2 linked regions of the Homo sapiens genome follow. The protein of the gene in region 1 purifies or fractionates together with the protein of each later gene. This does not show direct contact. Each region holds a gene or a part of one and is shown on either strand. Other genes may lie near its edges.

Evidence for each region. Proteins that work in one complex are often made in the same cells at the same time.
Region 2: the proteins of CEP97 (region 1) and KCTD7 purify together in Homo sapiens (affinity purification with western blotting, with the first as the bait; one study listed by BioGRID). This does not show direct contact.

The regions. Positions count from the first base shown.
Region 1 is NC_000003.12:101,726,379-101,731,968, forward strand, and holds part of CEP97 (centrosomal protein of 97 kDa), read left to right. Parts: intron 1-215; coding exon 216-358; intron 359-1,004; coding exon 1,005-1,163; intron 1,164-2,435; exon of another isoform or gene 2,436-2,457; coding exon 2,458-2,559; intron 2,560-5,461; coding exon 5,462-5,575; intron 5,576-5,590. UniProt on the Homo sapiens protein: Acts as a key negative regulator of ciliogenesis in collaboration with CCP110 by capping the mother centriole thereby preventing cilia formation. Required for recruitment of CCP110 to the centrosome.
Region 2 is NC_000007.14:66,638,881-66,642,257, reverse strand, and holds part of KCTD7 (BTB/POZ domain-containing protein KCTD7), read right to left. Parts: coding exon 3,026-3,377; 3' UTR 1,865-3,025; coding exon of another isoform or gene 1,864-1,864; 3' UTR 1-1,863. UniProt on the Homo sapiens protein: May be involved in the control of excitability of cortical neurons.

The DNA.
Region 1 (5,590 bases):
CTAGTTTTAATTTGATATTTCTGAAGAAAAATGAGTAATTCAATCTGGTCATTTAGAACTCAAGATTGCTTTAATTTTACAATGTTGATATTTATTATGCTCTACTGTTCTTTAACTTGAAATGGTATAGAGATTTTATAATTCCAGCCCTATGCTTAGCTGTTGTACATGTTTTATTTTATTTGTGTTTTCTAACATTTCCGTTTCTTTTCAAGGATCAGTGGTCAATTGGTCAGGACAGGGACTACAGAAATTAGGTCCAAATTTACCCTGTGAAGCTGATATTCACACTTTGATTCTGGATAAAAATCAGATTATTAAATTGGAAAATCTGGAGAAATGCAAACGATTAATACAGGTAGGTATTGCAATCTGGGAAATGGTTACATAGGATCAATTTATTATTAAACAAAACAATAAAATAACCTGACAAAAAGTAACTGTGCAGCCCTAGCAAGCAGTCATTGTTGCCTTAAATTTTTACATGACAGTTTCTTCTGAAGATGAACATACATGTACTACATTGAGAGTAGATTAGAAAAAAAAAGCATTGTTAAGAAAAGGAAGCATTTTATTTTGCAAAATACTGTGTTACTAAGGTAACCTTTTACCTCATGATGGGGGTAAAGAGTTCATTCATTCCTTCATTCAAGAAATGGTTACTGCGTCCCTCTTATATGTCTGGCACTGTATTAAGTTTTGACTGAGAGTTTAACAGCACTATTCTTGTGGAACTTACATTCTCAAGTTGTTGCTGTGTTAAAAATGTCTTAGTAGTTAGAGGAGGTCTGATCGCTCAGCTTTATCTGTATTTTCTATTGCCCAGGAACAATAACAAAAAACTGATAGTCATACTGTAGAATATTTAGACAATATATGTGAAATGTACAAAAGGAGTTTGTTTGAGAGTGTTTGGCTGTCTAAATAAACCTTTTAAATCACTTTAATGTGAAATATTTTATATATGTTATTCCTAAAAATAACAATATGTTTCCTTTTTACAGTTATCAGTAGCTAATAATCGGCTGGTTCGGATGATGGGTGTGGCCAAGCTGACGTTGCTTCGTGTATTAAATTTGCCTCATAATAGCATTGGCTGTGTGGAAGGGCTAAAGGAACTAGTACATCTGGAATGGCTGAATTTGGCAGGAAATAATCTTAAGGTGAATGGTTTCTTTTTTGTTTACAAAACTATTCTGCGTAAAAAAAATTCAAGCAATGTAGAAATAAGTCAAATTAAAAAGTGAAAGTACCCACTCCCACTCTCCAGGGATAATCTCTGTTAAAATAAACTAAAAATAAATCTCATTTTGAAACATATAATATGACATAATATTCTTTTAAATTTGAACAAAGAATCTATATTGTACTTAGAAAAAAGTAGATCAAACCATAGAGTGTTTAGGAGGGAGACTATATCATGCTGAATTAAGCTTTAAGTAAATGTTTAATGCTATAAGGGAGAATATACAGTTTTAAAAGTTAGGAGATCTGAATTCTAGTCCTACTTGCACTACTTAGTAACTGTGTAATTTTGGGTAAATTAATACATATTTCTGCGTCTTATTTTTTGGCATGCTAGCTGAGAGGACTAGATTACCAATAGCTGCCTTTTATTGAGCCATTAATGTATCTGAGCTACTGTTCTAAACATTTATCTGTATTAACTTATTCAATCTCATGGTAGCCTGCGAAGTAGATATAGACATTATGCGTGTTATAAAGGTGAAGGAACTAAAGCACAGAAAAGTAACTTGCTCAAGGTCACACAGCTAGGAAGTTGCAGGGCCAGAATGTAAATCCAGGCTGTTTGGTTTTAATCTAAACTTGTAAACTCTATTCTATACCACCAACTGTCATATATTATTACTATGGTTTCTTTTGTTTTTTTTTTTTTTTTGATGGAGTTTTGCTCTTATTGTCCAGGCTGGAGTGCAGTGGCACGATCTTGGCTCACTGCAACCTCTGCCTCCTGGGTTTAAGCAATTCTCCTGCCTCAGCCTCAAGAGTAACTGGGATTACAGGCGCCTGCCCACCATGCCTGGCTAATTTTTAGTATTTTTTTAGTAGAGACAGGGTTTCGCCATGTTGGCCAGGCTGGTCTCGAACTCCTGACCTCAGGCTGTCCACCCACCTCGGCCTCCCAAAGTGCTGGGATTACAGGTGTGAGCCATAGCGCCTGGCCATTACTATGTTTTTTTTCAAGCTGTAAAGATCTTGGATGGTATGAACTACTTGGTAGCCCTCTACTCATAGAGAGATAATGAAAGTGTACGTTTACAACCTGACAATCTACTAAATTCTGTTAGTACTGCCCCTTTTCTCTTGCTAAGTTCTTCTACTCTGCTTCTAATAATAAGAGGAGGGAAGACACTCTTTCAGCTGCAAAGAACTAGGGAATAATTTTATTTTTTGATTTTGTTTTCATTAAATAGTGTGATGCTTTTCTTGTGATAGGCCATGGAACAGATCAATAGCTGCACAGCTCTACAGCATCTCGATTTATCAGACAATAATATATCCCAGATAGGTGATCTATCTAAATTGGTATCCCTGAAAGTAAGTATGTTTTCTTTGTCATTTGTGAAGTTTTATAGCAAAATACCAAGAGAAAGTAATCTTACTGACCTAAAATTAGCCTGCTTTGTATGAGCAGATTGCTTTCTTTATGATAAGAATTATGGGCTGGGCATGGTGGGTCATGCCTGTAATCCCAGCACTTTGAGAGGCTGAGGCGAGTGGATGGCTTGAGCTCAGAAGTTCAAGACTAGCCTGGGCAACATGGCAAAGCCCCATCTCTACTAAAAATACCAAAAATTAGTGGGGCATAGTGGTGCGAGCCTGTAGTCCCAGCTACTCAGCTAAAGCAGGATTGGTTGAACCCAGGAGGTGGAGGTTGTGGTGACCCGAGATTGGGTCACTGCACTCTAGCCTGGGCAATAGAGTGAGACTCAGTCTCAAAAAAAAAAAAAGGAATTATGTTAGAATACCAGAAATTAAGTTTGAAACTTTTTGTTGTTAGTTATATAACTCATTTATTTGATGTGAAACTGGTCATTGTAGTTAAGGTTAATTTTATTTACCATTCTCTGAACATGATGGAATTCCCTGTATGCCCAATCAACCAATATTAGTAACTTCAGTTATTATATAGTACATAATCTTTGGTGAGGTTGAGATTAATCATTCCTGAATTTGAGTCTGTCTTTATTTTTTTTTGAGACAGAGTCTTGCTCTGTCACCCAGGCTAGAGTGTAGTAGTACAATCTCACTCGACCTCCCAGGCTCAAGTGATCCTCTCACCTTAGCCTCCCAAGTAGCTAGGACCATAGGCATGTGTACATCACCACACCCAGCTAATTTTTTGAGTGTTTGTAGAGATGAGATCTTTTTCTTTTCTTTTTTTTTTTTAGATAGAGTTCTGCTCTGTCACCCAAGCAGTGGTGCAATCTTGGCTCACTGCAACCCAAGCAGTGGTTGCAGTGGTGCAATCTTGGCTCACTGCAACCTCTGCCTCCTGTGTTCAAGTGATACTTCTGCCTCAGCGTCCCGCGTAGCTGGGATTATAGGCGCCCACCACCACACCTGGCTAATTTTTTGTATTTTTAGTAGAGACAGGATTTCACCACGTTGGCCAGGCTGATTTTGAACTCCTGACCTCACATGATCCTCCTGCCTTGGCCTCGCAAAGTGTTGGGATTACAAGCGTGAGCCACTGCACCTGGCCAGAGATGAGATCTTACTATGTTGTCTAGACTGGTCTCAAACTCCTGGACTCTAGCAGTCCTCCTGCCTCAGTCTCTCAAAGTGCTAGGATTACAGGCATGAGCCACCGAACTGGCCGAGTCTGTTTTTTTGTTTTGTTTTGTTTTGTTTTGTTTTGTTTTGTTTTGTTTTGTTTTGTTGAGACGGAGTTTTGCTCTGTTGCCCAGGCTGGAGTGCAGTGGCGCAATCTCGGCTCACTGCAACCTCTGCCTCCCAGGTTCAAGCGATTCTCCTGCCTCAGCCTCCTGAGTAGCTGGGACTACAGGTGCATGCCACCACGCCCAGCTAATTTTTGTATTTTTAGTAGAGATGGCATTTCATCATGTTGGCCAGGCTGGTCTCGAACTCCTGACCTTGTGATCCACCCGCCTCGGCCTCCCAAAGTGTTGGGATTACAGGCATGAGCCACTGCGCTGGGTCCCAAGTCTGGATTTTTTTTTTTTTTTTTGACATTCAGAATTGCTGTTTTTAAAGTAATAGGTATTAGCTAATTGTCAAAATTAATTTCACTTAGAAAAAAACATGTAGCATGTAGCACTTTTTATGGAGGGGAATGTATCATGCAGTCAAATAAGTAACAGTTGAAATCACAGTCTTGAAAAACATGTAGAACATTTTAAATATTGTTGCCTCATTGGATATTATTACCATCAGATATGTTCATTAAGCCCTAGAAGCAGTATCTTAGTTCACTTTTTCCCAGATCTTTAGCAGAAATCATTTTTAGCAATAATTATTCTAAACATTTTGATGTAGCCAGATGTTGTCCTAATAGATGCTAAGAGAATTCAAATGAACCAAAGATGATTGAATTTTTTTTTTTTTTTTTGCTGGAATAGAAGCCTATTTATCTGATCAGAATCCTGGGTGTTCAGTTTTGGGTTTATTCTTGGTTGTTGCTGACTTAATGTGAGTCAGCTTTATCTGCAAGTAACACATTCTACCTCCCTTTATTTTTTAGTTACCTAGAGAATACAGTTGCAATTATGGATGTAGGTTATCACTCTCTTTTTTGGAAAATTTGCTTTATATGTGGTTGTTTTAATGACTTTTTTTTTTTTTTTTTTTTAATTTGAGACATCAGAGTCTTGCTGTCACCCAGGCTCGAGTGCAGTGGTGCAGTCATGGCTTACTATAGCCTCGACCTCCTGGGCTCAAGTGATCCCCCTACCTCAGCCTCCCCAGTAGCTGGAAATACAGGTGCACCTCATCATGCCTGGCTAATTTTTTGATTTTTAGTAGAGACCAGGTCTCACTATGTTGCCCAGGCCGGTCTCAAACTCCTGGGCTCAAGCAATCTTCCCTCCTTGGCCTCCCAAAATGCTGGGATTACAGGCATGAGCCACCACACATGGCCTCTATTTTGATATTTTAAAAGAAAATGAAAAAGTGTGTTAGAAATTGCTCAGTGTCTCATAAGTTAAATCTCACAGCATGCCTAGTTGCTATGCCAAGCATGTGTTTTTGGACAAGTCTTTAAAATATCATGAGCTTAGGATGTTGGTATGAAAACAGAGAGTTGGACCAGAAGATCATCAAGGACCCTTGTAGCATTAACAGTCTTTGATTTGTGTGTGATGAGAAATATAATAAAGTAGATTCCTTTATTCTTATATGTACCATTTTGGTGTTGTCACAATAGGCCAATTTATTTGTAATCTTTTCATTTGTAATTCATACTGTTTTTACTTTCAAGACCCTGCTTTTACATGGAAACATCATCACCTCTCTTAGAATGGCACCTGCTTACCTACCCAGAAGTCTTGCTATACTTTCTTTGGCAGAAAATGAAATCCGAGACTTAAATGAGGTAAAATTTGAGGGT
Region 2 (3,377 bases), on another chromosome or scaffold:
TAAGGAAGGTGATGATTCCTTCCATTTATTTAGAGTGTTACGCTAAGAATTCCTCTCCTGGAGTGGGATGCATTTCAGTGTGGTTTTGCTTCAGTCTTTTTTTGTTGCTATAACATTAGCTTTTTTATTTTTAAGGAATTTTGTTATGGCGAGCATTGCACCATTGGTCCCATCTCCTGAAACTTTCACTTTGCTTTGACTCACTGATAACTACTGGCCCGTCTCAAGGCAAGATGAATCCAGTCCCTTGTCAAGTGAGAGGGATTTACTGACATTATGCACAACAATTCTATAAAGATGCACTTCCTTATGATCAGGGAGAAGCTTTCATCCTTTGGAGCCTTCCTTCCAGACCCAACCCTTCTTCTGTTCTGGGCCTGGCCATTTAGAGTTGAAAAGGGATCAAATGGGGAAAAGTCACTTCCACAGGGATAACCCCTTTATCTGGAGGCCGTTACCACAATCCACCACATCTAATTGCACTTTTCAGCCTGGCCTTGGTTTCTCATTAGAGAATGGCGAAACTAGGCCACTGAATTCCTTCACTCCATTTAGAAAGAGCTCTCAGCTTGCTGCCCAGTGTCACCTCTCTGCCTGTTCTACTGGCCCAGAGCCTTGTGTCCTACAGTGGCACAGAATACATTACTGTGAGGATCACAAAGGGAGTCAGAGAAACAGGGATTTCTCCAGCGAGAGAGAGGAACGGTGTTCTTACCCAGCATCCCTGTAATCCTAAGCAAGCCTTCAGGACCTGTTTTTGAGCAAACTTGCATTTGAGCAAACAAGTCTCTCAATGGCTTGCATGTATGGACTCTAAATAACCAAGCCCTGCCATGCTCCATGGGAGAAGGGGGAAGCAGAAGGGGTCAAGGCCACATTACTGAAAGCAATGGGCTTAATGAACTGCTCTCTGTTCACACAGACTTTTTCAATAGTCTGCCTCTCTGTCAAAAAATGAACACATATTAGGCAGTAGGTAACACCAATCAGAAGAACCAAAATGAAAGCCTTTTCTCTTAGAACAATACAAGAGCCATGTTTTGGGGCTAACCTCCAAGCAGGGACATCAGCTCCAGAAAAGAGACTATCCCTTTGTGTACGAGAACAATAGAGAGAGCGCATATCTCAGAACGTGAATGACTATCCTTTCCTCTTAGATCTCAGTATCCACCTCTTTTCCACCTCTAAAAGAGTACAACAGGAGTGCAAAACCACGCCCTGGAATCTTTGTTTACACATAGGGAACAGGAGATCACTGCCGTCCAGCCCCACGGAGGAATTCAGCCAAAGTCCCAGGGCTTGGTCTTCTCTTCCTCATATGAACACAGACTTCAGCTCCCCTTATACCCATCTTGTCTATCTGGTCCTGTAAGTCTGATACCAGTGAGGCTGTCCTCCCCAATTTATTTATTTATTTATTTATTTTTACGATGGTGTTGCCCAGGCTGGAGCACAGTGGCTAGCCACAGGCACGATCATAGTATACTACAGTCTTAATCTCCTGGGCTCAAGTGATCCTCCTGCCTCAGCCTCCAGAGTAGCTGGTACTACAGGTGTGTGCTCGAGTGGCCTGGACTACAGGCGTGTGCCCAAGTAGCTGGGACTACAGACATGTTCCTGGCTCGCATCAATTCTTTACACATTAAAAAAAAAAATCTCCCTTTACCCAGGAAGAGACAGGTACAATCATGATTAGAGAGAGACACCCTTAATGCAGCATGGAAATGTTACATTGTGATCAATGGTGCTACACAGTTCTTCCTTTAGGAGATGCATGTCCAGACCCTGACTAGTTGGCCTAGGCTGTAGACAGAGCAAGAAGGAAATGCAGTAGTAACAGATCCTTGGGGATCTTTTTCAATTTCTGAAATAGAGGAGTAAGTAAACCAAAATATACAGGAGTGAGGAGTAAAACAAAATATAAAGAAGTGAGTAAAACAAAAATAGAGGAGTGAGGAGTAAAACAAAAGGGAAGTTTTGTCTTCCTACGGCTCCTAGGATAGCTGTGTGTCTCACCCAGCCCTTCCTTTACCTTCTCAGAAGAGAGGCTCTCCTAGAAGGAGAATGTTACCAGGACAGAGGAACAGGGTTTAAAGAGAGGGGGTCCCCTTCCAAAGAGGTTCACCACAAACTGGATTCTAACACATGAGATAGCAGCCAAGGAGGTGTTCTGAGCCTCTAAAAAGGATGTTACATGTCAAAGATAACAGAAGATCTAGGCATCTTGCCTGCTTGACTTGGGGAATCTTCAAAAGAAGCCTCTGAAATTTGCATTCCAGCCCTGTGAGAAGATAACCCTGCAAGCAAGGAAGGTGGTGGAAGATAAGAGAAGCCGCGGCCCTAAGACAGGGCTGTAAACATTGTGGTTTTCTAAGGCCAACTGGGTGCATAGCTTTGGCAGCTATGGTTAAATCTCCAAAAGGTGGTGAAGAACATGTTCCGGAAGGAAAAGAAAAGTCTTTCCACATTTTGGGAATGTGGGCAACTATTCTTGGAGGAGAAGGGGTGCAGTGGGAGAGAAGATGCTCTTTCTTCTTCAGCCAGGGGCTATGGGGTGGCTGGTCAGGTAAATCCCCCATCATGTTCCGTGTTCACACCAATATACTGAGCACAAGGGAGGGACGCTTGAACAGGGTTGAGGAAGTGATTAGGCCTACATCGATTTGGTAACGTGGCTCTAAAATGGGCAGAAACTCTCTTGCAAGGTCAAGAAGGTGACAAAACTTCTCGGGACTTCCTGGTCAAGCCCTAGCTATCAGCCTCAAGGAAAGACTACCATGCCTTGAGGAAAGGCCAGGTGAGCGCTGGCTGGAGTGCCTGCAGGCCGCAAGCCCTGAGCCCAACCCTGAGGTGCAGTCAGGGAGATTGGAGCTACACCTCTGTCCCCTGGGAGCTGTGCCTCAGGATGCTGTTCTCACCTCGGCAGATTCTGGGGCAGTCAGCAGCCCCTTCAGGGATCTTACTCCCAGAGCCACCAAGCAAGGTGGACATCCTCCCTGATGGGACTCTCGCCTACCGGGGCTACTCACCACCATGTGATCTTGAACTCATAGATGGGGCGCTTGCAGTAGTAGTGGTTCACGAGGTGCTTGTCACACACCCCGATGCACTGGTGGTCCACGGTGAGACCCTGGGCCGAGAGGTCCGTGACCAGGCAGTGCAGCAGGTCATAAACATCAGCCACAGCCTCCCAGGGCCCAAAAGACACATCCACTTCACAGTGGTGCTCAAAAAGCTGCCCGTCACTCTCACTCCGCTCAAATCGCAGGGAGTTGAGGAGCGGACACTCATAGGGGGTGATGGGCATCTCCTCCTTGAAGACACAGACCTTGAGCTTGGCAAAGCGGGCCTTCCGCTGGACCGCACGCAGCCGGGCG